Linked DNA regions of Homo sapiens: region 2 is linked to region 1. Evidence: fine-mapped expression QTL. A gene starts in region 1. The other region holds a variant in brackets. All regions are shown on one strand. Distances are from middle to middle.

Region 1 (14,911 bases):
ATCAGAGGACAATACATGCAGTTCAAGCCATTTTTGTCAAGTATGTGTTTATGTATACGCAGAATGACCTGAGGCAAGACATTTAACTTCTCTGGCTCTCAGTTTCCTCTTCTAGGAAACAGGGATAGTAACAGGGCTTACCTCCCAAGACTATTTTGAGGATTAAATGAGTTAGTATATACAGTAAACATTGGCTAAGTATACTATTATTTTTATGTACATGGGAAAAGATCTGAAGGCTACTGCATAAACTGCTAACAACAATTATGATAATTAATAATAATTTGGCCAGCTCACGCCTGTAATCCCAGGATTTTGGGAGGCTAAGGTGGGAGGATCAATTGAGCTCAGGAGGTGGAGGATGCAGTGAGCTGTGATCCCTACCACTGCATTCCAGCCTGCGGACAGAGCAACACCCTGTCTCAGAAACAAACAGGCCAGGTGCAGTGGCTCACATCTGTAATCCCAGCACCTTGGGAGGCTGAGGTAGGCAGAACACCTGAGGTCAGGAGTTCGAGACCAGACTGGCCAACATGGAGAAACACTGTTCCCTACTAAAAACATACAAATTAGACAGGCATGGTGGCGCATACCTATAATCCCACCTACTTGGGAGGCTGAGGTGGGAGAATCACTTGAACCTGGGAGGCAGAGGCTGCAGTGAGCTGAGATCACGCCACTGCACTCCAGCCTGGACGAGAATGAGACTGTCTTAAAAACAAAACAAGGCTGGGTGCGGTGGCTCACACGTGTAATCCCAGCACTTTGGGAGGCCAAGGCGGACGGATCACGGAGGTCAGGAGATCGAGACCATCCTGGCTAACAAGGTGAAACCCCGTCTCTTCTAAAAATACAAAAAAATATGCCGGGCATGGTGGCGGGCGCCTGTATTCCCAGCTACTCGGGAGGCTGAGGCAGGAGAATGGCATGAACCCGGGAAGCGGAACTTGCAGTGAGCTGAGATCACAACACTGTACTCGAGCCTGGGCGACAGAGTGAGACTCTGTCTCAAAAAAAAAAAAAAAAAAAAAAAAACACACACTAAACAAACAAACATGCCAAAAAAACAATAATCTGAGGACGGTGAAAATGATACTTTTTTCTTTTTTTGAGATGGAGTCTTGCACTGTCGCCCAGGCTGGAGTGCAGTGGCGTGATCGTGGCTCACTGCAAGCTCCGCCTCCTGGGTTCACACCATTCTCCTGCCTCAGCCTCCCCAGTAGCTGGGACTACAGGCGCCTGCCACCACGCCCGGCTAATTTTTTGTATTTTTAGTAGAGACGGGGTTTCACCATGTTAGCCAGGATGGTCTCGATCTCCTGACCTCGTGATCCGCCCGCCTTGGCCTCCCAAAGTGCTGGGATTACAGGCGTGAGCCACCGCAACCAGCCGAAAATACTTTTTTTTTTTTTTTTTTAGATGGAATTTCACTCTTGTTTCCCAGGCTGGAGTGTAATGGCACAATCTCAGCTCACCGCAACCTCCACCCTCCCAGGTTCAAGCAATTCTCCTGCCTCATCTCCCAAGTAGCTGGGATTACAGGTATGTGCCACCACATCCAGCTAATTTTTGTATTTTTAGTAGAGACGAAGTTTTACCATGTTGGTCAGGCTGGTCTCGAACTCCTGACCTCAGGTGATCTGCCCACCTTGGCCTCCCAAATTGCTGGGATTACAGGTGTGAGCCACAGCGCCCAGCCGAAAATGACACGTTTTTTAAAAGGAACTACCCAATAGCTATTCACAGTAGTATCACATGATAGGGGTCTCCTCAATGAATGACGAGCCACAGCCTCCTCCCTAGTTTCCCTGCTGCCTGTCACCCCCTATCTTGCTCAGGGTCAGGGCCAATGTCCCCATCAAGGCCTACAAGATTTTATGGCATCTGGCCTGTTCTTCCTCTGACTGCCTCTCCCCCTGGGCTCTTTGCTCCACCCACTCTGGCCTCCTCGCTGTCCTGTGAACATGCCCAACATGCCCCTTCCTCAAAGACTTTGTGCCTCTCTTCCGTCTGCCTGGAATATTCCTCCTCCTAGATATCAGCACAACTCCTTCCCTCTTCATTTCCTTCAGGTCTCCACTCACATGTCTCTGCAGTAAGGTCTTCCCTGACGACTATGTTTCTTTTTTTTTTGAGACGGAGTTTCCCTCTTATTGCCCAGGCTGGAGTGCAATGGCGTGATCTCAGCTCACAGCAACCTCTGCCTCCCAAGTTCAAGCGATTCTCCTGCCTCAGCCTCCCTAGTAGCTGGGATTACAGGCATGTGCCACCACGCCTGGCTAATTTTGTATTTTTAGTAGAGACGGGGTTTCTCCATGTTGGTCAGGCTGATCTCGAACTCCCGACCTCAGGTGATTCGCCCGCCTTGGCCTCCCAAAGTGCTGGGATTACAGGCATGAGCCACCGCGCCCGGCCGACGACCATATTTCAAATTTTAACTTCCTCTCGATCCCCATCTGTGTTGCTTTTTCTCCATAGCATTTATCATCATCACACACTACATATTTATAAGTTCCACGAGGACAGTGATTTATTTATTTGAAATCATTTTTTGGTAGAAGCAGAGTTTCGCCATGTTGCCCAGGCTGGTCTTGAACTCCTGCACTCAAGCAATCCACCCTCCTTGGCCTCCCAAAGTGCTTGGGATCACAAGTCTCAGCCATCGCCCCCGGCCTAGAACAGGGATTTTGTTCCTTCACTTTTTATATTCCCAGCACGGAAGAGTGCTTGGCACCTAGCAGGAGCTCAATAAACATCTGCTGAATGAGTGAACACTACTGCCAAACGGCCTCCCCAATCACTGGGTTCAGTATTCCTGCCCTTTCACTCTTGAATCCTAATAGCTATACTTGTTCTACTTTTTCCCCCTTTCTCACTACTGCACTTGACAAGTCTTTAAAAAAAAAAAAAAAAAAGGGCATGGTGTGGTGGCTCACTCCTGTAATCCCAGCACTTTGGGAGGCCAAAGTGGACAGATCACTTGAGGCCAGGAGTTCAAGACCAGCCTGGCCAACATGGCAAAACCCAGTCTCTGCTAAAAATACAAAAAAATTACTTGGGCATGGAGATGGATGCCTGTAATCCCAGCTACTTGGGAGGCTGAGGCATGAGAATTACCTGAGCCTGGGAGGCAGACGTTGCAGCGAGCCGAGATTGCGCCACTGCACTCCAGCCTGGATGACAGAGCAAGACTCTGTCTCAAAAATAAAACAAAACAAAAACAAAGAAAGGAAAGAAAACAAAAATAGGACGGGTATAGTGGCTCACAATTGTAAACCCAGCATTTTGGTAGGTCTAGGTGGGAGGATGGCTTGAGGCCAGGAGTTCAGGACTAGCCTAGGCCTAAAAACTAAAAAAGAAGGCCAGGTGCAGGGGTTCATGCCTATAATCCCAACATTTTGGGAGGCTGAAGCAGGAAGAGTACTTGAGGCCAGGAGTTTGAAACCAGCCTGGGCAACACAGCGACACACCATCTCTAGACATATGCACAATTAGCTGGGCATCGATATCATGCCACTGCTCTCCAGCCTGGGAGACACGGTAAGACTCCATCTAAAAAAAAAAAAAAAAAAAAAAAAAAATTAGCCAGGCATGGTGCCATGAACCTTTAGTCCCAGCTACTCTGGAGGCTAAGGTGGGAGGATTGTTTGAGCCTGGTTGTAGTGAAGTATGATTGGGCCACCGTAGTCCAACCTGGGCAACAGAGCATGAACCTGATGAACCTGTTTCCAAAAAAAAAAAAGAAAAAATAATCAGTTAATATATATTGAACACGGCCGGGCACGGTGGCTCAAGCCTATAATGCCAGCACTTTGGGAGGCCAAGGCGGGTGGATCACCCGAGGTTAGCAGTTTGAGACCAGTCTGGCCAACATGGTGAAACCTCATCTCTACTAAAAATACAAAAAAATTAGCCAGGCATGGTGGCAGGCACATGTAATCCTAGCTACTCGGGAGGCTGAGGCAGGAGAATCGCTTGAATTTGGGAGGAGGAGGTTGCAGTGAGCCGAGGTCACATCATTGCACTCCAGCGTGGGCAACAAGAGTGAAACTGCGTTTCAAATTAAAAAAAAAAAGAAAAAAAACCCACACACACAGAGAGAGAAAGAGAAAGAGAGAGAGAGAACACTTAATATGTGCTAAGCACAATTCTAAGATATACATATTAACTCATTTAAACCTCAGACACCAAGGTTTAAATGAATTAATATGTATATATTAGAATTAATATACATGAGTTAGGTTTACATTTTTTGTTTTTTTGAGACAGGGTGTCACTCTGTTGCCCAAGCTGGAGTGCAGTGCCGCAATCTCAGCTCACCGCAATCTCTGCCTCCCGGGCTCAGGCGATCCTCCTACCTCATTTTCCCAAGTAGCTGAGACTACAGGCGAATCCCCATTTAATTTTTGTACTTTCTGTAGAGAAGGGTTTCGCCATGTTGCCCAGGCTGGGAGTTAGTATTTTTAATTTTCATTTTACAGATGAGGAAACTGAAGACCAGGGAGGTAAAGTGACCTGACCAAAGGCATATAGCTTGTAAGAGGCAGAGTCAGCAGCATGGCTGCATATCTTCCTTACCACTATGCTACAGTACTGTTTATCTGAAAGGAATTGTTTTTTACCCCCAGGTCTGTTTACGTAAGCCAAGGATCCTGGCCACCAGACAACCGGCATGGCATGCCGTCCCCAGTCAAAACATAAAAAAAACAGGCCGGGCATGGTGGCTCACACCTGTAATCCCAACACCACTGCACTCCAGCCTGGGCGACAGAATGAGACTCTGCCTCAAAAAATAAAATAAAATAAAATAAAACCCCATAATAAACATTTCCACTTTTTTCATGATAATACATTCAGATCAACCAAAATATTTTACCCTGTTTCATTCTTCTTCTGCTTTTTGGTTTATGCTTTCAGTTTTGTTTTGTTCTTTTTTAAACACACATACACAAAATTCTCCTGCAGGAGCTAGATTTTATGCAAAAAAAGGAAAAAAAATGAAAATAAAAAAACCCATATATACATATTTCCCTTTCATTTACAAAAAGAGCATACACAGGGCCGGGAGCGGTGACTCACGCCTGTAATCCCAGCACTTCGGGAGGCGGAGGCAGGTGGATCACGAGGTCAGGAGTTCAAGACCAGCCTGACCAACATGGTGAAACCCCATCTCTACTAAAAATACAAAAATTAGCCAGGCGTGGTGGTGTGCCTGTAATCCCAGCTACCTGGGAGGCTGAGGCAGGCGAATTGCTTGAACCTGGAAGGCAGAGGTTGCAGTGAGCCGAGATCACGCCACTGCACTCCAGCCTGGGTGACAGAGTGAGACTCTGTCTCAAAAAAAAAAAAAAGGAGCCTACACAGGCCGAGTTTGGTGGCTCAGGCCTGTAATCCCTGCACTTTGGAAGGCTGAGGTGGGCAGATCACTTGAGGTCAGGAGTTCAAGACCAGCCTGGCCAACACAGAGAAACCCCGTCTCTACTAAAAATATAAAAATTACCTGGGTGTGGTGGGGCACGTTTGTAATCCCAGCTACTCGAGAGGCTGGGGTGGGAGAATCACTTGAACCAGGGAGGTGGAGGTTGCAGTGAACTGGGATCGTGCCAGCCTGGGCGACAGAGTGAGACCCTGTCTCAAAAAAAAAAAAAAAGAAAAAGCATATACAATAAACACCAACCTCCACTTCACTTGTTTTCCCTTAATATATGTTGGAGGCCACTATATCAGTGTATAGAGATTTTCATCATTTCCTTTTATCTACCTCATTCCTTTTTAGAGTTGCATAGTATTTTTTATGTGGATGTATTATAGTTTCTTTCAGCCAATCTTCTTATTTAAGAACATTTGGGATGCGTGTAGCCTTTTGCTATGATGAACAGTATCACTGTTTCCCCTTCCCTCTCGATGTACTCGTTAAGAAGTGGTACCCTGCCCCACTGCTACCTAGGAATCTGATGACTACCCTGTTTCCCCAAACTGGCTCTAGGAGTATCTTTTATTCCTTCAACGAACATTAGCTGGGCGTCTCCGGCGTGATTGGCGCTGTGCTGAGAACACAGTGGCGACAGAGACAAACCTAGTCCCTACCTTCATGGAACACACGGTCATAGACATCATAAAACAGCACACAGATAAGAGTCGGATAACAAATTAGACCACACGTGACATGAAGGAACACGGACCGACAAAAGCATTTAACAGGCGGATTTCTGGATGGAGGGCAGGGAAGGAGGGCTTCGCAGAGGAAGTGACGTTGGTGCCGAGACCCGAAGGATGAAATGGGAGTTAGCCAAGCCGAATGGGTAAAAGGATGTTGCAGGCAGAAGGGACAGCCTGTGCAAAATCCCCGAAGCGGGAAAGCGCATGGCAAGTTTAAGGAACCGAAAGGCCAGGGCGGCTGTTAGAGGTGGGGGAAAAAGCAAAGAGGCCGAGTCGAAGCAAGCGAGGTCTGCGGGGCGGTGGCGCCCGGGGGGCCACGTTGGAACTTTGCCTCGAGGGCACTAGGGAGCCAAGGAAGGGTCCTGAGCAAGGGAAGAAACATGGGTCGCGAAAGCCACTGTTCCCCTCTCCCCACGGCGATGCCCTCCCCGCCCGAGCCCCTGCTTCTTTAGGAGCCTCCTCCTTTCGTCTCCGGGCCCAAACGCCGCCTCCCGCTCACCGCAGCTCTGGCCTCCGTTCCCCTCGCGCCCCCTCAGCAGTGCCTCTTCCTACACTCCGCCGCCGCCGCCGCCGCCATCTTCCGTTCGTCGCCGGGAACGGTGCGCACGCGCCACACACCCAGGGCCGCCGGGAAATGGAGTCCAGAGCACAGCCCGACCCCGCCCATGCCTCGTCCCGTGCGAGCGGCATTCTGCCCGCCTCCATACTACGGCGAGCAGACCCTTCATTTCCGGCTCTGGGTCCGGCTAGGCCTTCTGGGAAATGTAGTCCCTTCGGAGGCACCGGGCGGAAAGGGAGCTAGAGCATTCTGGGAAATGGAGTTCTCAGTGGTGCTGAGTCCCTGGACGGCTGGCTGGTCTTGGAGAGTGCGGAGTTCGGGCAGCGAAGCTCCTGGGTCTTGGAGGGGAGGTGGTCTGTTGCCCTAGTGGGGTCTGCGGAGAGGCCCCGATCCCCTCCATCTTTGTTCTTGACCCTTTCAACAGTCTGAAGCATTTCTTTTTCTTTTCTTTTCTTTCTTTCTTTTTTTTTGGAAACGGAGTCCCGCTCTCTCTCCCAGGCTGGACTGCAGTGGCGCGATCTCGGCTCACTGCAACCTCCGCTTCCTAGGTTCAAACGATTCTCCTGCCTCAGCCTCCCGAATAGCTGGGATAACAGGCACGCACCATCACGCCTAGCTAGTTGTTGTATTTTTAATAGAGATGGGGTTTCACCCTGTTGGCCAGGCTGGTCTCAAACTCCTGACCTCAAGTGATTCGTCCGCCCGCCTCGGCCTCCTGCAGTGCTGGAATTACAGGCGTGAGCCACCGCGCCCGGCCAAGTTAAGCATTTCTAGCCGTCGGAAGCCTCAGTCTTCCTGTCTGTCCAATGGGGATGTGATTTCGGGGACCTTTTACGGGTCCTTGTAGTCGCATAGTGGCCCTAGCGTTCTGATTCCCCTTTCTTCCGCCACGGTCATGCAGGGCTCTGGCTCTTCGTCCTCTCCTGCCGAGATGATGAAGCCCCCTGAGGTAGAAAGGCTCCAGAGTTCTGACCTCGGGGCCCTTGGTATCTGCAGCGTCGCTGCGGGCAGCTCCCTCACTCCTGAATCACCCCCAGCTGTCGCGTCCTGGGGCTGCGGCCCCCGGCGCCTGAGGTCTGTCTCCTGGCGATCCCGCAGGGGGCGCCCCAGTCCGAGCGCGCCGCCCTCGGGGAGGCGGGAGGGGAGCCCGGGGCGGGCGAGGGCGGGGGTGTCCCGGCTATAAAGCGTGGCCGCCTCCCGCGGCGCTCGGGACAGCCGTACCCCGGGCGGTCGGACGGGCGGGCGCCGGTGGGAGCTCGGGCCGTGCCCGCTGAGAGATCCAGAGCGCTCCGTTCCCCCGGGGCCGGAGCGGGGGCGGGTGGGGGCGTAAGCCCGGGGGATGCTGGGCTCAGTGAAGATGGAGGCCCATGACCTGGCCGAGTGGAGCTACTACCCGGAGGCGGGCGAGGTGTGTCCTCGGGGATGGCGGAGCGGGAAGTTGGGGGCAGGTATCGGGGTGTGGGCTCACATGGAGCAGGGACTGGTTGTGGGTTCAAATGGAGGCAAAGGCGTCTACTTGGGCAGCTGAGGAACTGGGAACACGGAGACCAGGTGTGGAAGTCGGGGACCGGGGACGAGGCATGGATGGGAGCGCTGTTTGGGCAGCCTCGCCGCGGCCAGGGCTTAAAAATGGAAGTCAGGAAAATTTAGCCAAGGGTCGGGTCACACCTTAAACTTGGGAGCCGGGTGTTGGAGCCCCAAAAAGCAAGGGATTTATATGTACAAACCAAAGATAGGAATCAGAGTTCCAGGGTAGGGGACAGACTAGGGGGTTTCAGGATGTGAGGTTCAAAGTTGGAGGGAAAGAAAGACTAAAAGATGGAGGAGGAGTCACCATTAAGGGGAAGACTGAGGTGGGAGCTCAGGGCCAGCACACAGTGTTAAAGAACCGGGGTTCGGGGCTAAGGATCAGCTGGTAATCTAAGGTAGGGTCAGACATAGGGATTGGTGCTCAGGGGTCAGAGATGGGGGTGCTCAGAGATGAAGCTTCGTTTTTGGAGTCTGAAATAACAGGTGGCTTAGAGTTGGGCATCTGGGAGCAGAAGATGTAGCCATCAGCATTGGCAGGAGAGGGGCCGATCTCCACCCCCCCATCCCTACCCATGACCCTCCGCAGGGACTCCCCAAGTCGGAAGATGGAGAGTTTTAGATTGTGCACCTTCCCCTGCTCCCCGCCAGTCCAGCAACCTCCAGCTATTGCTAAAATTCCCATCCAGTCTCACCTCAGACAAGGCTTCCCTGGAGTGGGGGGTGGCGGCATATTCTAATCCCCTCACCTGGACAGACAGAAAGTCCTTCCTCAAGTCTGACCCCCATTCGTCTTGCTGCAACGACCCCTACACCTTAGCTACCTCACTCTGTAATCAACGTTGTGAGGTTGTTGGGGCTGGGGGTTGGGTTCTTGGTCTGAGAATTATGGGGGTCTGGACACTTGGACTTCTAACCTGGAAGGGGACTGTGGGCTTGAGGTGGGGTGTGGGGCAGGAATGGCTAGGTTCTCCAAGGAGTCAAGATCTGGTGACTGCGGGGGCCCCAGTGTGCCTGAGTCTTGGGTCTGGGGCTCGAAACTGTAGGGTGGGACTCCTGGATCCCCAGGCCTTCAGGGCTGGGCAAGGTGCCTGGGAAGGGCCAGTCCTGGGTTTGGGGAGGTGTGAGGTGCACGTGGGGTGGGGCAGGGCCAACAGGGAAAGGGACTGGGAGTGTTGAGAGGTGGAGGCAGGGTGGCTGGAGGTATCAGTTGTGAGATGCGGAAGGCAGAGACCCAGGTGGGAAATGGAGGGTTCCAGGTAGTGGGGGTGATCCCAGCTGGACCTCTGCAGAACTCAGTCTGGGGACCTGATTTAAGGGAACCACCTACAGACCAATTGTACAAACCAACTACAGTTGTTTTGGGGGCACATCTTAAGTAAATGATGGGGGTCTAGGCAGGAGGAGTTGATATTTGGGGCACAGTCTGAATAGATCCAAGTTTAGGGGACAATTTGTATGGAAATTGTGTCAGAAATTGAAGGAAAGCCGGCACAGTGGCTCACACTTGTAATCCCAGCACTTTGGGAGGTCGAAGTGGGAGGATCTCTTGAGCCCAGGAGTTTGAGGCCAGCCTGGGCAACATAGGGAGACCTTGTCTTTAAAAAAAAAATTTTTTTTTAATTAGTCAGGCATGCCTGTAGTCTAAGCTACTTGGTTGGGAGGCTGAGGTGGGAGGATCACTTGAGGCTGGGAGTTCGAGCTGCCGGGAGCTGTGATCGTATCACGGCACTCCAGCCTGGGTGACAGAATGAGACCCTATCTCAAAAAATAATAATAGTAGAGGGACAGTCTGGAGGTAATCAGCATTTCAGGGCATATTTTGGGAGAGTCAGTATTTGGAGGAATGGAAATGGTTGGGTGATACTGTCTGAGGCTCTCCCCAGCCTTCCCATCAGATAAGCCCACCTCTTCCCCTTGGGTCAGAACAATGGGGAGAGAAATACCTACACTCAGCCAGCAACTGAGAGCTGAGAGGGTCCCCAAACCACTTCTTGCCCATAGCACCCTCCCGCTTGGGGTGACGTTAACACTCAGGGCAGCTTGCTGTCTGGAAAGAACTTGGAAAGTTACCATCCTGGGATATCCCTGTTGGCCTCAGGTTCTTGCAGATCAGCTGGTCCAGCTGCTCCCCTGTTTTAGAGGTGGTTAACTCTGAAGCCCCGCACGCAGAACACTGGGGTCCTGGGTTGGGTCTGGGACTAGAAACTTGGCTTCTGGCTTCACACTGCCTTCCTCTGCTCCCTGTCACACCCTTCTCCAGAGACAATAAGGAAATGAAAGAGGAGAAATTCCAGTCTCCTGGTGTGGGGGTGCGGGTCCCCCAAGGGCTTCCCCCCAATCTCAGCCCCACCCTGTCAGGGGAGATCCGGCTCAGACCCGGACACCAGGGGTTCATCCCAGCCCCGGGGCGTGGGAAAGCCTAGGGTGGATTAGGGCAGCTGGAGTGCTTGAGGTCGGACCTCAAGGAGGACTTCCGGGTGGGTGGGGAGCCAGAAAGGAGGGCCCTGGGGTCCCTGTCTGTCTTACTCTGCAATACCAGAGAGCCTGACTGGGTTGCAGAAATGGGGGGTGGAGGTATAGGGGGATTTGGAAACTCTGTGGACCCCTCTAATCCATCACCTTCTCACCTCATCCCTTTTCTTTTTCTGGGGAGGGGACCCGAAGCCACCAACCAGCGGGAGAGCCTGCATGGGGGAAGGGAGTAACTGTGGCTGCAATTTCACTGTAAGACTTGGGGTGAGGGGGAATGGATTTGTTGAAGGGAGGGAGATAGATAGATAGATAGATAGATAGATAGATAGATAGATAGATGCATGGATGGATGGATAGATAGATTGATAGGAAGATGGTGGCTCGTCATGGTAGCTCATGACTGTAATCCCAGCACTTTGGGAGGCCGAAGAGGGTGGATCACTTGAGGTCAGGAGTTCAAGACCAGGCTGGCCAACATGGTGAAACCCCATCTCTACTAAAAATACAAAACTTAGCTGGGCATGGTGGTGCATGCCTATAATCCCAGTTACTTGGGAGGCTGAGACAGGAGAATTGCTTGAACCCAGGAGGCGGAGGTTGCAGTGAGCCGAGATGGAGCCACTGCACTCCAGCCTGGGTGACAGAGTGAGACTCTATCTCAAAAAAAAAAAAAAAAAAAGACAAGAAGATGGGCTGAAGGAGGAAGAAAGGTGGGAGTTGGGGTTGGGAGGGGAGTGGGGTAGAGTCGGATAGTGAGAGAGAGTGCCCAGGAAGGGAGAAAGAGATGGAAGGATGGAGAGAGAGACAGGGGCCGAGATGGAGGGGAAAGAAAGATGGGAGAGGACTCGGGAGGGGTCGAGGGTGGGCAGGAAGAGCAAAAGAGGTTAGGGTGGAGACAGAAGGGAAAACAATGCGGGGGTGGGGAGGGAGATGGGAGAGGGGAATATGGGTACTAGTACTGAGACGGGTAACACAACGGCAAAAATAGCCAACAGAGATTCAAAGAGACATGATGAAAGAGTTCCTTGGAGAGACATGAAAAGGAAAGAGCAGAGGATTTCTCGACTGGAACTCAGACTTAGGGTTGAGTTGGTTGCCTCCACTCTCTGATTCCCTAAGCCACCCTGGCCAGACTCGTTTCTCCGGACCTTGTGACCTGCAGAAGCTTACAGTGGTAGGGCCAGACATGGTGGCTCATGGCTATAATCCCAACACTTTGGGAGGCCGAGGCAGGAGGATCACCTGAGGTCAGGAGTTCGAGACTAGCCTGACCAACATGGTGAAACCCTGTCTTTACTAAAAATACAAAAACTAGCTGAGTGTTGTGGTGCGTGCCCGTAATCCCAGCTGCTCGGGAGGCTGAGGCAGGAGAATCGCTTGAACCTGGGAGGCAGAAGTTGCAGTGAGCTGAGATTGCACCACTGCACTCCAGCCTGGGCGATACAGTGAGACTCTCTTAAAAAAAAAAAAAAAAAAAAGCTTACAGTGGCAGGAGACTAGGCGGTATCCAGTTAACTCACATTTGGTGGCTCTAGCCAGTGCTGTATATAGCAGCATTCCCCCACCCACGCAGTGCCATGAGACCCCAGGCCTCGGAGGAGGCAGTGGGGAAAGGTCCAGGTGGAGAATGGGGCAGAGAGGATGGGAGACAGTGGTTGAGAAGGGATAAGTAGATACAAAGAAAGAAACAACCTTCCAGCATGCCTATGTTTTCCTGGCGTGTTCTGTTCACTGTTGTGTTCCTGCTAGACTGTTGGCACCACGAGGGCAGGCATTTCTGTCTGTCTTAGTCACTGCTTTTATTTTATTTTATGATTATTATTTTTTGAGATGGAGTCTTGCTCTGTTGCCCAGGCTGGAGGCAGTGGCACGATCTTGGCTCACCACAACCTCTGCCTCCTGGGTTCAAGCAATTCTCCTGCCTCAGCCTCCCTAGTAGCTGGGATTGCAGGCATGTGCCACCATGCCCGGCTAATTTTGTATTTTTAGTGGAGACGGGGTTTCTCCCTGTTGGTCAGGCTGGTCTCGAACTCCCGACCTCAAGCGATCCGCACCCCCACCCCCCCCACCTCAGCCTCCCAAAGTGCTGGGATTACAGGCGTGAGCCACCGCAACTGGCCTAGTCACTGCGTTTATAGCGTGACCCGGAACAGGTCTGGAGCCAGACTGCCTGGTTGCAGAATCCCAGTTCTGCCCCCATTCTTGCTGTGTGACCCCAGCAACCTCTCTGGGCCTCAGCTAGCTCAGCTGTAAAATGGGCATCATCATAACACCTCCTCCCATAGTATGGTTGTCAAGATTAAAGGAGACCATTCTTGTGAAGTGCTTGGAGCAGCTAACTGATAAATATTGGTTGAATGAATGAAAGAATATACAGAGGGTTACTTAGGAGGCACTGCAAGATCTACCGTGTTCCATTGACCTAGGATGCACCTTTTCCCCCCATTTGAACATTTCCAAAAATGGGATGCATTTTACAGTCAACAGTGTCCTATGATTTTAACTGAGTGTTTTTCCCATTTGTATTAATATATAAAGTAATGCTGCAGCTTCCAGAGAAGTCTTAGATTTGAAGATATATAGTAAATGGATAATATTATTAGGTTGAAAAGTGATTTCTGATATTCAAACACTTTTATGTATAAATACAGTAATTTATTTTTATTTATTTATTTTTTTTTTTTGAGACAGAGTCTTGCTCTGTCGCCCAGGCTGGAGGGCAGTGGTGCAATCTCGGCTCACTGCAACCTCCACCTTCTGGGTGCAAGCAATTCTCCTGCCTCAGCCTCCTGAATAGCTGGGACTACAGGCGCCCGCCACCATACCTGGCTATTTTTTGTGTTTTTAGTAGAGACAGGGTTTTGCCATGTTGGCCAGGCTGGTCTCGAACTCCTGACCTCAAGTGATCCACCTGCCTCGGCCTCCCAAAGTGCTGGGATTACAGGTGTGAGCCACTGTGCCCAGCCTAAATGCAGTAATTTTATAAGCTAAAAGATTGAAGAGAGCTACACATATATGTTAGATATGTTAGATTATTACAGAGTTATAATAACTTTTTTTTTTTTTTTTTGAGACAGAATCTCACTGTCGCCCAGGCTGGAGTGCAGTGGCATGATCTCAGCTCACTGCAAGCTCCACCTTCCGGGTTCACGCCATTCTCCTGCCTCAGCCTCCCAAGTAGCTGGGACTACAGGCGTTCGCCACCACACCCGGCTAATTTTGTTTTTGTATTTTTAGTAGAGACAGGGTTTCACCGTGTTAGCCAAGATGGTCTCGATCTCCTGACCTTGTGATCCACCTGCCTCGGCCTCCCAAAGTGCTGGGATTACAGGTGTGAGCCACCGTGCCCGGCCTATAATAACTCTTTATGATTACTAAAATTGAGAACTGCTGATTTACCTAATAAACCAGCAGTTATTAAATGTTTTGGTCTCAGGACCACCCCCCTTCTTTTTTTTTTTTTTTTGAGATGGAGTCTTGCTCTGTTGTCCTGGCTGGAGTGTGCAGTGGCATGATCTCAGCTCACCGCAGCCTCAGACTCCTGGGCTCAAGCGATCCTCCTGCCTCAACCTCCCGAGTAGCTGGGATTACAGTCCTGTGCCACGATGCCGGCTGATTTTTGTATTTTTGGTAGATAACAGGGTTTTGCCACGTTGCCAGGCTGGTCTTGAACTTCTGACCTCAAGTGATTCACCCTCCTTGGCTCCCAAAGTTCTGGGATTACTTTGGGAGGCTGAGGCAGGAGGATTACTCGAGGCCAGGAGTTTGAAAACAGCCTGGGCAACATGGTGAATCCCCGTCTCTACTAAAAATACAAAAAAATTAGCTGGGTGTGCGGTGCATGCCTATAATCCCAGCTACTTGGGAGGCTGAGGCAGGAGGATCACTTGAGCCCCAGAGTTTGAGGCTACAGTGAGCTGCGATTGCACCACTGCACTTCAGCCTGAGTGACAGAGTGAGACCCTGTAGAAAAAAAAAATTATTTAGGAGTCCAAACAGTTTCTGTTGATGTGGGTTATGTCTATCTACGTTTACAGTATTTACAATTAAAACTGAGAAATATTACAAACATGTATTCATTTAAAAATAGCAATCATTTGTTAGTGTAAAAGATTTTTATTAAAAAAACCAAATTTCAAAAAATTTAGTCAAAAGAGCGACACTGTTTTTTTCCATTTTTGCAAATCAAGT
Region 2 (14,911 bases), 44 kb before region 1:
GCTCACTGCAGCCTCTGCCTCCCGGTTCAAGTGATTCTCCTGCCTCAGCCTCCCGAGTAGCTGAGATCACAGGCGTGTGCCACCACGCCTGGCTAACTTTTTGTATTTTTAGTAGAGACAGGGTTTTGCCATGTTGGCCAGGCTGGTCTTGAACTCCTGACTTCGAGTTATCTGTCTGCCTCAGCCTCCCAAAGTGCTGGGATCACAGGCATGAGCAAGGCCTTATATGTCTCAGGCCAGGAGCCTTGAAGGTTGTGGTGAGGAGTCTGAGCTTCCCCCTGTGGGCAATGGGGAGCCATAGCAGGTTCTGAGCATTGGAGGGACACGGCCAGCTTTGTGCTTTAATAAGAACCATTACTTCATCAACCTCATTTCTCCCGCTCTCCCTCTTCCTCCCTTGGTTCCAGACACACCAGCCCCTCCTTACTGCTCCTCAAAAACAGCAAGCCTCAGAGCCTTTGCATTTGCAGTGTGCTCTGCCTGGCTCACTCTTCCTCCGGTCATCTGCAAGATGCTCTCCCTCGACTCCTTCAGGGCCCTAATCAAATGTCACCTCCTTGGACAGGCCTTCACTGACCCACACAATTTATTTTTTTGAGATGGAGTCTCGCTCTGTTGCCCAGGCTGGAGTGCAGTGGCACGATCTCGGCTCACTGCAACCTCTGCCGCCCGGGTTCAAGTGATTCTCCTGCCTCAACCTCCCGAGGAGCTGGGATTACAGGCCCATGCTACCATGCCCTGATAATTTTTGTATTTTTTAGTAGAGACAGGGTTTCGCCATGTTGGCAAGGCTGGTCTCGAACTCCTGACCTCAGGTGATCCGCCCGTCTTGGCCTCCTCAAGTGCTGGGATAACAGGCGTGAGCCACCGCACCTGGTTGGACCCCCACTATTTCATGTGTTCCCTAGCCCTCTTAGCCTCCCTTATTTTTCACCTGAGTCCTTAGCTTCAGTTTATCACTTTTTCTGTTTCTTGTCCACTCTCCTAGAATGAGAGCATCCTGGGTATCTAATGGAGGCTGAGAGCAGTGTTTTGTGACTGTAGCTAAGTGGCTTTGGCAAGTATCTTCCTCAGGCAGGGAGGTTTAGTTGCAGGATAAGAGGGTCTCAGGAGGGCTGGGCACGGTGGTTCATGCCTGCAATCCTAGCACTTTGGGAGGCTGAGATGGGCGGATCACTTGAGGTCGAGTTTGAGACTAGCCTGGGCAACATGGTGAAATCTTGCCTCTACTAAAAATACAAAAATTAGCTGGGTGAAGTGGAGCGCGCCTGTAACCCCAACTACTCGGGAGGCTGAAGCAGAAGAATCACTTGAACTTGGGAAGGAGAGGTTGCCCTAAGCCAAGACCACGCCACTGTGCTCCAGCCTGGGTGACAGGGTGAGACTATGTCTGGGGGAAAAAAAAAGCAAGAGGGCTTGGGGAGCCAAATCACGTGTTCTGGAATCCTGACTCTGCCATATCCTAGCTGTGTAGTTTTGGGTAAGCGACCCAACTTCTCTGTGTCTCGGTCTCCTCCTCTGTAAAGTAGGATGAGCTGATGTGCTCATCTCCGGTGAGAATTAGGTGAGTGTGTGCAGTGCCAGCACATGTCTGGGAAGTGAATGCTAGCTGTTGTTGGCATTGATTCCGACTCAGCTGAATTAGAGTCACTGGTTTTCCATGAGGGATGATCCCTTGTCTGACTGACTGAGGCAGGCACTTCGGGTGGGGCCCCTCCCTGCCTGGGTCCCCCACCCGCCCCACTCCTAGCCCCTGCTCACAGGCTGAGGTCGCAATTGATGCTGGTCTGCAGCAGGTAGGCCTTGGCGTTCTGCACGGCCAGCTCCAGAGGCTCGGGCTCAGGCACCTGGGCACTGTAGTGTGGGAAGCCCAGCTCAGAGGGCAAGAACTGAAGGGCAGGGTCATCCCTTATGTAAGGCCCGTGCTGGGCACCTTCAGAGAACTGGTCTGTCTGGTAGAGGTTGAACTGGCCCAAGGGGTTGACTGGGGGCTCCTGGAAGGTGGGGTCCAGTTGCTGGAACAGGCTGCTTTGGCCCTGCTGGAGCCGCTGCAGCATTAGGCTGGTGGTGAGCTCGGCGACCTGCATCCTGCTTTCATCAGAGTAAGGCTGAGGCTGGAACTCTGAGGGAAAGCCCGTGTTCACAGATGGGTACTCCATGCCACCCAGCCGGGCTTCCTCAGCCTGGAAGACCTGGGGCATCAGCAAGTTCTCCTGTTGGGACAGGCTGCCCCTCTGTGACCAACCAGGGGCGTTTCGCTGGGCGTCTGGAGGTATCTGCTGCCTCTCCTCGGGGTCCGCTGCCAGGGCCTGAGCTTGGTCCCGACTGTGCCGCCTCTGGGAGGCCTGAGAAGTCCTCCGGCCCGGAGGCTGCTGGGCAGGGCGCTCAGGGTAGGGCGGCAGGTCTCCCATGGTTCGCCAGGAGGCACAGATCTCTAGGAGAAAGGCTTGCAGACAAGGAGGCCAAGCGAGAGCCACCTGTCGACACCGCCGGTTTCTGAGCACCGAGAGAGGGGGCCGTTACCCGTGGAGGGCGCGGGGAGCGGGCCAGGGTGGGTTCCGCGCAGGCTCTGGGCGCGCACTCCCGATCCCGCGCAGCCCCACGGTGGACGTCGCGCCAGACTCGAGACGGCACCCGCGCCCCAGGCCCGCCATCCCTTTTTTTTTTTCTTTTCAGTAACTTGCCCAAGTTCACATCTTTTATTTCTTTTTAAGGCAAAGCACCCGCAGGTCAAGCCCCGCCCCGTCCCCCAGCCCCGAGTCCCTGTCCCACCCCCTTTCCCCCTCGAGCCCCGTCAGCTGTTCCCCTTGGCCTCGGGTTCCCTGGCGTCCTCGGCAGCCGGGCTGGGAGTCTTCATAGCATCTTCTCCAACAGGTGCGAGGGTCTGGGGGCTCCGCTCCTCCTTCAAGGTCAGCCCGCCCGCTGCCGTCTCCTGGTGACCGGGGAAGGAAAGGGCAGCCGGGTGGAGGGCGCGGTCACCTCCACGCTCCCCTTCAGGCCCTGCCCCCTGATGGCCCCTCCTCCCCCACCTTCACCCCGGCCCAGATCCGGCTTCTTCCTTCGCAGCGGAGGCTGCTCTCCCTACCTTGGGTAGGGGGCCCTCGAGACTAGAGTCCAACAGCGCGGCCTCGGTCAGCCCCGAGTCGTCATCCATGCTGATGAAGATGCCCGGGGTCTCGCACTCAGGCCCCTCCTCCCGGAAATCCATGGCTTCCTCAGACGGGGGCGGGCCTGGCCGGGCCGACGGAGAGGGAGAGGGGGAGGAAGAGGAGGGGGCTCCCACTCCTCCCGGCTTCAGCTTCTGTTCCTCCTCCAGCTGCCGCTTTAAGGCCTTCTCCTGGGCCAGTCGCAGGCCGATGAGGTCCTGAGGGGGCCGGGGTGCTGGGGCCGG[G/C]GCCAAGGTCAGGGGCTCCAGATCATCCTGGGGATAGGGAGGGCCACACAGAAGCTCAGAGGTGGGTGGCTCAGAGGACGGCCGGAAAGAGAAGGAACCACCCTGAGGTGGTCTTTGAGTTCTTCACCAAGAGCATGGGGAGGAAGGGGCAGTTGTCCCCCAGACCCCCAACTCCCAGCAGGAGCATCCCCTGGGAGACGGGTGGCCCAGAGGCAGGGGTGGCCTGAGTCTCTCGGGGTCAGGAGGAGGCCATGGTGAGCCTTGCTGGCTTGGGGTAGGGGGTGGGAGTCTGGGGATCCAGATGGGTGGGCTGCAGGGCCCTCACCTCCTCCAAGGGCCCCGCAGGCGCCTCCTTGGCCTCTGGCTCCTGCTTGCCGCTGGCCTCCAAGATGGTCATGATGGAGTTAGGGATGTGAGCTTGCTGGGTGGAGAGCAGGAAGGGGGCGCTGGGGGCAGCTCTGGCACAGAGACCCCATTTGCACACCTCAGGTCCGGGGGCCCTAACCCTCCAGAACTCCCAGCAGTGCAGGGCCTTCTTGTGTCCGCCTCCATCCAGTCCCCACCAACCAGAGGGACCCAGGGGGCCGCCCACCGCACACCCTGGGTGGGGGGAAAGGGTACCTGGTGGGGGGAAGGGGTACCTGGTGGGGGGTGAAGGAGCGGACATGGGCCAGCAGGGGCTCCCGGAGCTCTGGGCACTTGTCAAAGACGGCTCCCAGCTGCTGGGGCGGCAGCTGCAGGATGACCTGGAAGCTCTGGGGCTTTGTGCGCTGGCAGCACTTGATGAAGCCCTCCCACACCTTGGGGTACTTCCACACCTGAACCAGGGAGGGAGGGAGCCGTCGGGAGAGGCACACAGGCATCCCCCCGAGCCTTGACACTGGGAGAAAGACCTTGCCAAGACCATGCCCAAATCCCACCATCCAAGATTCCTCTGGATGGGCAACAAGCAGCCCCGACCTCCCTCCAGAGGCCTTTGTCTTCCCGATCCAGGCGGCTGGACCACGAGGGCAACTTGGGAAGGGGGTGGAAGAAAACTCAGCCGCCTTTTACCAGAGCTCCCCCTGGGCCAGGCCCAGGCTAAGTGCTGCGGGAGCACCTCTCATGACATTCTCACGGCAGCCTCCAGGGGGCGAAATTACCCCTGCTAAACAGCGGAGGTCCGTGCCGGTGCCGGGACCTGTCCTGGGTCACATGTACATTCTCACCGCAGCCTCCAGGGGGCGACATTAGTCCTGCGGGGTTTGGTTTTTTTGTTCTCTTTTTTTTTTTTTTTTTTTTTTTTTTTTGAGAGATGGTCTTACTCTGCCGCCCAGGCTAGAGTGCAGTGAGTGGCGCGTTTCTTCCTCACTGCAGCCCCAAACTCCTGGGCTCAAGCAGTCCTCCTGTCTCGGCCTCCCAAAGAGTTGGCATTACAGGTGTGAACCATCACACCTGGCCTTATCGTGGTATTTCTAAAGCCCAAATTTCTAGCACCTCTTAAAAAACTGGGCCATTTTTCAGCTCTGGGATGCATCCTGGCCGGGCACACAGCGGTGGAGGGTGAGGAGCAGCCATGCCTCTCCCGGGTGCACACCCCTTGAGGGTTACCACAGCTCCTACCACCCAGCTGCCCTCCCTCATCACCTGGGAGCTGGCCCAGTCATACACCCTGGAGCACTGCTATTTTCTTGGCAGGAGGCAGAGCAGAGCCTGCTGTCCTCCACCGGGCTCCCTCCGGGGTCAGACGGGGGAAGGGGAGGGCAAGCAGGCTAGAAGCTGCTGTCTGCAGCCTGGAGGCGGGGTGGCCGGGGATGGGTTACCTGCTTCATGATGAGGCGGGACAGGATGTTCATGACGAAGCCCCCCAGGCGGGGGTACATGGTCAGGGACTGGATGACGGTCCTCATGAGCAGCATGGGCAGGGGGCTCTGCTCCATCAGCTGCTGCATCACCACGGCCAGCACCTCTGACGTGTACACGTTCCGCTCCGCAAAGCACAGGTTGGTGGCTGCGAGGAGGCGGAGAGTGGGCCTGTCCTCTCTGCCCAGCTGCCCCCTGGGAGGTGGGAGTCCCGGCCTCTGCTGTCTGCCCATGTGAGGGGAAGACTTCTAAAGCCCTGACTTCTAAAGCCCCTGCGGGAGAGAGGAGACTCCCCCGACCCAGCAGAAGGCACACTGCAAGCCCCGCCCTTGGAAAACCTGCAGGCTTGGTTCAAGGGAGAAGACATCCAACTCCAGGAAGCCCCAAAATGGGTGGAACAGGGAACCCGTGGCCCCTCACTTTAAGGACGACCTTGGGAAAGATGTGTTGCCAAGCCCTGGGGGAGTGGCAGGGCCCCCCACCCCTGCTAGGGAGGGAAGGCAGCTATTGGTTTCTACCAGCCCCTCCAGAGAGAACAGCAGTCCACAGACCAGCTTGTCAGAGGGCCAAGGGACTGCCCACCCAGTCCTGACAAGGATACAGGGCTTGCGCTGGTGCTGGGAAGATGGGGGGTGCCAGGCTAAGGGCTGTGTTGGGCATATGGGCACAATCAGAGTAATAGCGAAGGGAGGGACAAGAGAAGGCTGGGGCCGGGGCATACGATGACCCCCCGACTCAACACCCAGTGCCAGTACCAGTAGGACCCAGAGGGTTGGCACAGCACAAGCACCCATGAAGGCAGGCCCTGGGGTCTGTTCCCCGAGTGGGTGGCCATGCCCCAATCCACAGTGCTAATGGGAGGCCCCAGGAGCTGCCTTTGAAGCCCTTCCCCAAACACCACTTGCCATGTGAGTGTCAACCAGGAAGTCTTTATTGAGCCAGAAGAGCACCCCAACCCCCCAAATCCTTGAGAGGCTAATGGAGAACAGGGGTGGGGTCTCTAAGGGGGGGGGCGTAGACAGGTGGGGAGGAGGCTGAATGGGCAGAGCAGACAGTGGAGGTGAGGACCTGCCAGAAACCGAGGAAGCCCCTGCTCCTCGTCAGGGCCAGGTGGTCACTGGTCCTGCCTGCTCAGCCACCCCAAGGCTCCAGAATCACCCCTCCCCTCTTCCTTCCCTGTCGGCTTTGCCCCAGCCCCCCACCTGGGCCTCCCCCGAGCCTCCGATCCATTCTCCATATAGCAGCCTGAAGGGTGTTTTGGAAAGCTCAGACCTGACTTGCCTCCCAGAGACCCTCAAGAAACAAGGTCAAATTCCCACCTCGGCCTGCGAGACTCCTGTGTGGGCAGGCCCCAGGGGCACCTTTCCCAATGGCGACAGCCTGACCTCCTCCCTTGACCAGGCCCCCTCCTTCGTCCCCTAGGTCCAGAACCAGCCAGCAAGCACCTCCCTCGGTCCCTGCAGTCTCCTGCTGCTGCCGCCTACTCATCCTTCCTTGGTCTCAGCCTGAGTGTCCCCTTTTTCGGGAAGTCTTCCCTGATGTCCCACACCCAGGCTGGGTTACATGGCCCCTCTGGGCTGCCCAGTCCCAGGCCACCCCTCTCAGTTGTTACTGGCCAGGGACTTCTTGTCTCTCCCTGGACTGTAAGCCCTGGAAGGACAGGGCTAGGGCTGTCTTTCCTGTGTCCCCAGCACTACCCAGGATGGATATGGGTGAGCAGAGGTGCTGACTTTTCTTAATGCTGGACTACCAGGAGTGGGTCTAGTTATAGACAAGCTCCCCAGAGGAACAGGGTGGTCTACGGGGGAGTGAACAGTGCACAACAAAAGGACTCGACTTTGTGATCTGGAGCTTAGAGTGCAACCAGGAAGACTGCTGGTGCCTGAGCAGGAGAAAAACTTGGGTTGGGTGCTGGGGACACCAGCTGGAGGGTTGTCTGGCCTGCAGCGTGCACGCCTGGGCGTGTTGAAGGGTGGGGTGGTGTAGGGTAGGCCCTGCTGACCCCTCTGGGGGCCTCACTCCTGGTGGCCTGTGTGGCCTCTGGCAAGGCCCTTTCTCCTGGGCCAAGGATCTTCAGGGGCCTGGCTCCTGGTGGCCTGTGTGGCCTCCGACAAGGCCCTTTCTTCTGGACCTAGGATCCTCAGGGCTTCTAATCTGGGTCCACAAATGGCCTTGGGGTGTGTGTGTGTATGTGTGAACCCCCTCAAACTGTATGCAAATAATATGAGCATACTGTCCTGGGAATGGGCTAGAACTTTCCTCAGATCACCAAAGGGGTCGGGGAATGTGAAGACCACAGCCCTGGCCTATGAGCCTGGAGATCTTTCCTCCCTGCTGGTCTCCCACGAGAGGCCTTGGTGCCTCCTGGGTTTTATAATGTGGGTTTGACATTTCCATAAGCTGCTCTCTTGACCTTAAACGTTTCTCAGAGAACTTGCAGAGGAAGGTTAGGAAGTAAGTCACTGAAAAGCTGTTTCAAGCTAGAACACGAAAGTAAGCAGCACAGAGAGGAAGCCCCTTCCCGTCTGAGGGTGAGAAGAGAAATCAAAGGACAGCAGTCTTCTGAGTATAGAGGGCGACAGTGAGGGTGTCCAGCTCCGTGGGACAGGATGGCTCCTGGCCCAGAAACCTTGCTCAGGAGGGATGGAGGGGTGGGCGCTCTCAGGGGAGGTGGTCCTTAGACGCGGAACCGGCAGAGCTGGGATTCCCACCCAGGTCCGTTTCACTTCAGATTCTGTTTCTTCTACCACACCACTTAGCTTCTGCTTGGCCCTGAGTAAGTCACCTAACCTCTCTGGAGCCTCCATTTCCTGTCTACACAATGGAAGTGAACATACCCACCAAGTGGCGGACCAGCAGGCTCAGGCCTGTAGGCGTTCAGGGAGAGCCCAGCGCAGAGTGCTCAGTGAGTGGGGGCCATCGTGAGGCGGCCAGTTCGTCACCAACCCTGCCGCCCTGCAGGCAAGCTCTCCTGCCTCACCTACCCTGGCCCACAAGTGCCCTGGAGCCCTGGGTCTGCCCTGCTGCTGCGCCTCTACCACTCACGGTGTGCCCTGCTTCCTTCTGTTCCTCGGGGCTAGGGGTGGGGCTACCCAACTGCTTTAGGCCCACTCTGTGCCAGGGCACAGCAGGTACATCAGAGGCAGAAAAAGGTGGGTTGTAAAGGGTAAAACCTGGGAGGAAGGAAGGAGGAGGGAGGGAGGGAGGGAGGGAAGAGGAGGCAAGAAAAGGAGGGAGGGAGGGAGGTGGCTCTCCAGAGCTCTGAGGTGGGGCTGTGAGTGACAGTCTTTGACTTGGCAGATTCCAGTGGGGGCATGTGGGTGACTGAGGTCCTGCCCTGGCGTCGCAGGGGCCAGGCCACTGGAGTGGGGGGGAAGCGCCTCACCTTTGATGATGGATTTCATGTCGCACTTCACGGAGTCAATGTTGTGTAATGCGATCAGGAGCTCTCCAGGGTTCAGCGGGGACAAGGCTGAGTTTCCCTCACCTGCAGCAGGCGGGAGGAAGGGTGGGGGAAGACAGTGCGGACGCATAAGTGAAGAGATGGGTCTGAGTTCCCCAGATCGGGGGAGCTGCGAGCAAAGATGAGGTGCCCTCTGCTTTCAGGGCTGGAACAGGGGAAGCGACTGACAACATAAAAAGGGGACACCGAAGGCAGCAGCAGCCCTCAGGCAGCGTGAGGTTGCCACTGTGTGCTCCTCCCCATCCTGGGCTCCCACCCTGGGTAGCGTGTGGCACGGCTGGGTCTCTCTGCCCCTGGGCTGTGCACCCCCGAGGGCAGGGTAGGACCACCTCCTCGTGTGGTCCCCAACACAGACTCCACCGCGGCACAGGGGGTCATGGGCATTTGTGGCACAGGGCAAGATGGAGCCAGGCTACAGGCTTCCAAAAAGTGGCTGGAGCCTTCTGCTGTGTGGGGCCTGGGGGAGTGGAGGGGAGGCTGGTGGAGTGGCTCTTTGCTGCTGCTATTTTGATGGTCCCAGAGCCATCTATATGTGTGTTTTAAACCACCAGGGTCTGCGTGGAACAGACATCCTCCATTTTTTCTCTAGCACCAACCACTGGGGTAAGGGTGAACAATCCCTTGCTAGTTTTTCTAAGTTGAAAGTTTTGCTTCTTTTTTTTTTTTTTTTTTTTTGAGATGGAGTCTCACTCTGTCATCCAGGCTGGAGTGCACTGGCACGATCTCCGCTCACTGCAAGCTCCGCCTCCCGGGTTCATGCCATTCTCCTGCCTCAGCCTCCCGAGTAGCTGGGACTACAGGCGCCCGCCACCACGCCTGGCTAATTTTTTGTATTTTTAGTAGAGACGGGGTTTCACTGTGTTAGCCAGGATGGTCTCGATCTCCTGACCTTGTGATCCGCCCGCCTCGCCTCAAGTTTTGTTTCTTTTTGACTGTGTCAAAACGAAATGCCCCTGGCCCACAGCTTGAGGGATTCGGGCAAGATCTGAGGAGGGGCCAGACTGGAGCCGGGCCTGAGAGGGGCTGGTGTGTGGCCAGATCCTAAAAGGGAAGATGCTGCTGGAGCCTCCGCCCCTAGCTCCACGGTCTTGCCCCTGCTGTGAATGAAACCATCATAAAAATATCCCAGAGGGTGGCCTGGGAGCTCCGGGACACATGGAGATGTCCAGTACAGCTGGTGTCCCAGGGAGCAGGATGTGCCCTCTCTCCCTGAGGGGGGTGCCTGCACCTTGCCTTCTGCCCCAGCACCTGGGGTGGGTGGGCCTCTTGGTGGGGATGAGGCTGCATCACCTACCATGCTGGGTGCCCAGCAGGCGGTTGAAGACTTCCTTCACCACGATGGGGTTGAGTTTGATGAGTTTAGGCAGGGCCTGGATCACCTCTTTCTACAGGGAGAAGGTGGTGGGGGTGGGAGTTGAGTCACATACACCCTCATTTCCCTTCTAGACAAGCCACCCCTTCTGCTCGCCCTGGGGAGCTGAGGGCAAGCTCTGGCTCACTGAGCCCCTCCTACCCTCACCACACCCTCAGGGCGGAGCTTTCTCCCCAGCTCTCACCCCATCTGAGCCCCCTGCATGTCACATGTGTGTGCCCCCAAGAGGCATCCTGATCCTTGTCTGACAGAGGAGAAAAGCGAGTCTCAAAGAGGGGAAGGGACCTGCTTGAGGTAGAGGAGGAAGCAGCAGAGCCATTGGCACCCGGGTGCCCATGCAAATGAGGCCAGGAGCTGCTCCGCATTTCCAGGGTACCCAGGTGTCGGCGGCTTCCATGACTTCTGACCACAGGCAAGGTGCCTTCTGCCCTCTGCTATGTGCCTCTGGCTCAACTGCTGCTGAAGCAACGTGCTGCCCTGCCCCTCCCAGTCCCACATGTCCCAGGTAGCAGGGACAAACAGGCCTCCAGCTCCATACCTTCTCCAGCCCATTGAGCACCGGGATGAGGAAGCGGACGTCTGGCAGTCGCTTGTGGTAGAGATCCCGGACCCGCTTCACCAGCTCTGGGGAGGGTGGGACTGCATGGAAGCAGCAGGAGGCACCAAGTTGGAGGCGGAGGGGAGCGTGGGAAAGGGTGGGCACCCAGGAAAGAGAAGCAGGCAGGTGTGCAGGAAGGGATGGCAACTTCACCCTTGGCTGCTCACGTGCAATTAGCACCACACTGTTCCAAATGGAGAAACTGAGGCCCTAGGACAGGCACAGACCCGCAAGAGGTACGACCATCTGGGGACCCAGCAGCTCAGATCCCCAGGGCCCGGGGAAGGCTAAGGAGAGGGAGGAAAGCCATGAAAGGTGGGGGTCTCCAGGGTCACCTTTGTCTGTGAGGCTGTGCAGACATCTCGTGACCAGTGTCTCTGCTCCCTTGGGACAATTTTCCACCAGCAGGAGCAGCTCCGGGGAGTTCATGCCCATTCCTCGGATCTAGAGGCAGAGACAGGGATGACCAGACCCAGGGTGAGAGCTTAGGGGAGGGTCAGGTGTTGCCCGGCAGGGTGGCTTGCGGGGCATGCTGGCGCCCAGGGTGAGACTGAGGTGACAGGGTTTGGAGGGCGGGGGAAAGGTGGGGAAGGGCAGGAGAGTCAGAAGAACCTTGGCATCTCCCTGCAGCTCCTCCAGACATGGGCCTGCTCCAGCTCCCAGCCCTGGCTGGGCTGTCCTCCTGCGGGCCACTCCTCTGTGGCTCAGACTTGACCTGACCTCGAATGCCCACCCTGTGCTTCGTTCACTGGTGAAGATGTTTCTGGCTCCACCCACCTGCTTCGTGACTCGGTTTCTCAGGCGCAGCTGGCTTGGCTGCGAGCCCAGACCAGGCTCCACCTGCTGCTGCTTCCTGAGCCTGCTCTGCGGTGAATGCCAAACAGGAGCCAGGGCCAGGCTCCACCTCTGCCCAGTAACGTTTACGCTCCTGACTAAAACCGACTGTCTCTGCCCTCGAGAAGCTCACAGCCCTGCCAGATAACTTTTCTGCAAAGTGAGATCACTTTTCCACAGCTGGACCACCTTGAGAATGGGGCTAAAAATCTGTTTCCTCCCAACTACAAGCCTGTTATCCCCATTTTCCAGGTAAGGGCCCCACTGAACCCAAATGGCAGATAGGTGGGGATTAACATACACTTCTCTCTCCCGTTTATCACGAAAATGTTCTGTAATCCAAAAATGTCAGGGGCAGAAAGAAAAAAAGTGGTTTCAAATCCTGCTGCAAACTGGAAGAGCAGACCTTCTAATCTCAGGTGCTAGTCTGTCACTGAGCTGCTTCTCATGTGGGCAGACCTGTGCCTCTAGAGAGAGGGGCAGGAAGGACTTATGTTTATGTAATGACAGCTAAAGAGTCCCGTTAGCAACACTGGGAAGGCCAGCTCATAAAGTGACAGTAACACAGAGGTTTATGTGCCTGAGTTCATGGACTCCTTGCATCAGCGTGGAGGGACTGGAACGTCTTCCCCATTTTTACTGACGGGCCCAAGGTCGCAGTGAGAAAGCGAGAAGTGAACGCGAACCCAGGTCTATCAGCTCCAGGCTCCTAACTGCCGGGCCACTTGACGTTTCCTCAGGAGTGACATGCGGACCGCCTGCAAGCTACACAGCCTGGGTCGGCCCGGGGTGACCACCCTTCGGGCTTGGCACACTCTGAGGTGGAGCAGGTTGGGGAAGAGCTGGAGCTGGGGACACAGCCTTGCCCGTGGGTGGGCAGGGCCTGGTGGGCTCAGGGGCCTCACCGGCTGCTCAATGACCCTCAGCACCGTCCGCTTGATGTCGGCGATGGCTTCAGTGTACACGGCCGCCAGTTCGTGGATCAGCTTGTGGTTCTGAGGCAGGAGGGCCAGGTAGAGGTACAGACACTGCTTCACTGTCTCCTCCGTCCAGGGTGCTGCCACCTCTGACAGGGCAGGAGCGGGCATCAGATTGGCCCACACTCTTCTCCAACCCCCTCGGACCCTCAGGAATGTCCCTTCTTGGGCAGTGGAGCCGGGGAGGGCAGAGAAGGGAGCCGGGGCTGGGGAGCTAATTGTTCTAGGGCAGGGAAATGGCGGGGACCAGGACTTCCCACCTCCAGCCTCCCGTGACTGCCAACACACAAGGCAACTAGAAGGATCTTTCTAAAGTGCGATCCTGACCCTGTCCCTCTCTGGCTCCAATCCCAGCCATGCCTGCCCTGTGGCCTCAGAATAAACCCCCAGCTCCCTGCCTCACACTGTCTGCCAGGTGTTGTATGGGGTGGCCCCGGCCCGCTGCTGCTCTGCTGCCCTCCATGTTGGTCACATACCCATTCTAACAGTCCCGAGGGCCCTGGTCTCTTTGCCTTTGCATCCACCCTCCTCTTTGCCTGGTCCACGGCACCTGCTCAGCTTCTGGGCCTCCCGAAGGCTGTGCATCTCCTGGGAATGCTTCCTGGCACCTGGGCCAGGCCTCCCGTGCTGCCCTATCATGGCCCAAGCCTTCCCATTTAATGGTCCATTTACTCGGGGTCTGAGTCTACCTGTCTGTAATCCAGGGCTCTGCTGAGGGAACCTGCCTGAGATGGCCCTGCCTGGTCCTTCCTCAGGCCCCACCGATGGCTGGCTCTCCTCGTCCTCCAGATCTCTCTCCCTGACCCCCCAGGCTGGGCCAGATGCCCCCTACCCTGACTCCCACAGCCCCCAGGTGGCTGTCCCAGTCCTGCCCATTCCCGTCACTCGTGTCCGAGTGGCTTCCCCACTCATCCCCTCTGCTCGCAGGGCCCAGAGCGCGGACACAGCAGCGCTCAGTATGCATCTGATGACCTGTGCCCAACCTGTGTCCTTGTCAGCTCCAAACAGCACAGACGGTGGGTTGGGGTGCACCAGGAGCTGCAGGTAGTTGAGGGCAAATTTCTCCACATACTCCCGCAGCTGCTCCTTCTCATACATGCGTTTGATGAACAGCAGGGCCTGGGAGCGCACCTGAGGAGGAAGATGGAGAAGGGCAGGGTCAGGGAAGAGGTAAGAGGAAGAACAGCTATTCCTGCGAGCATGGCAACACTCACGTGAAAACAAGCCCGAGGCTGAGAAGGGGCAGCCCAGCTGTTACCAGGGCCCAGGGCTGGTCCCCAGTGCAGGAGGCAGATATCCTGGCCAGGGCCGGACCCGCAGCACCACCTCACTGCCTGCCTCTCCAGCCCATCTGCCCATCACTGCTTCTTGCCTTGCTCACTAAGCTCCAAGCAGAGGGAGAGCTCCTCAGTTCCTTAAAAGTGCCACTCCCTGCCAAGTCTCCCTAGAACGTCTACTGCCAGCTAAACCCTGTTTCACTCAGATATCATCTGCCAGGAGCCGTGAGGGAAGGGTCTGGTCCTGGGCACTCTGACCCCAGCAGCAGCACATGGCCATGGCCAGGGCCAGGGCCAGGGGTGTGAGATGAAGGTCTGCTGAATGAATGAAAACGCTACCCAGCAAGGGCTGGGGCAAAAGGCTGCAGGCAACGATGGGTCAAGGGCGCTCTCAACCACAGCACGTGCACATCTGTCCCCTCTGTCTAGAGCACACCCAGCTACTGATTTTCCAGGTCTCAGCGTACAAGTCCCCTCCTTGAAAGAAGCCTTCCTTGAAACACCTCCCCTGCCCACCCCACAACCAGATGGTCGGCCCCTCCCTCCCCAGGGCAGCCACACACTGCTCTGCTCAGCTGCTGAGCACGCTGTGTCCTCACTGCTGGCTGAGGCCACACCGGCTCCCCTGCTGGGCTGGGCAATGCCCTCAGGCCCCGGCACAGGACTGGGCTGCACGAGGAGCCTGTGCTGGCCACCACGGGTGGACTAAGAGCGAGAGTGGGACTGCCCTTCCCAGGAGGGCAAGCGCACGTGTGTGTGTGTACACACTACAGGCAGACTCAGGCACGGTAACCCTGGTTTCTAGGCAGCTTGATGCCACTGAAAATGAAAATAAAACAGACAGAAATAGCCAAAAAACCACTGAAAGAAGGGAATGGGCCCAGAGAAACTTGCAAGGGAGTGTGGAAGACGTGGGCTGGTTACTCAGGATAGAGGCGGCCTCTGCAAGCTGCAGGCTGAGGGCAGCCAGGAAGTGGAGGAGGGGATCACCTTGTCCTTCTCATGGGAGCTGAGGTCGAGGAGGACATGCAGGTACTGGAACTGGCGGGACGGGCGCTTGAAGATCAGGTCTCGAAGTGTGGACATGCCCAGATAGGTGCGACTCTGCAGCAAAAGGAAAGGGACCCGAGCTCAGCCCACCTGAGTGTGCCTCTGGG

The links. PIP is the estimated chance that this variant, and not a neighbour inherited with it, causes the effect.
Region 2: its variant is fine-mapped to the expression of SYMPK in whole blood (TOPMed, PIP above 0.99). The same link has a PIP of 0.9 or more in T cells and lung.

Annotation. Positions count from the first base shown.
Region 1 is chr19:45,856,400-45,871,310 of GRCh38, forward strand. It overlaps SYMPK (symplekin scaffold protein), which reads right to left and starts at 6,748. Exons shown (of 27, transcript NM_004819.3): 1 at 6,659-6,748. It overlaps FOXA3 (forkhead box A3), which reads left to right and starts at 7,927. Exons shown (of 2, transcript NM_004497.3): 1 at 7,927-8,126. The coding sequence starts at 8,058. RefSeq lists enhancers at 5,773-6,411, 6,663-7,072 and a silencer at 7,713-8,122.
Region 2 is chr19:45,812,766-45,827,676 of GRCh38, forward strand. RSPH6A (radial spoke head 6 homolog A) reads right to left here and starts at 2,543. Exons shown (of 6, transcript NM_030785.4): 1 at 1,762-2,543. The coding sequence starts at 2,411. It overlaps SYMPK (symplekin scaffold protein), which reads right to left. Exons shown (of 27, transcript NM_004819.3): 16 at 14,745-14,858; 17 at 13,461-13,608; 18 at 12,406-12,566; 19 at 11,002-11,110; 20 at 10,607-10,707; 21 at 9,991-10,081; 22 at 8,619-8,720; 23 at 5,194-5,381; 24 at 4,033-4,209; 25 at 3,717-3,812; 26 at 3,086-3,418; 27 at 2,645-2,932. The coding sequence ends at 2,795. RefSeq lists enhancers at 4,217-4,286, 13,938-14,705 and a silencer at 4,447-4,536. The variant G/C (reference allele first, on the strand shown) is at 3,392.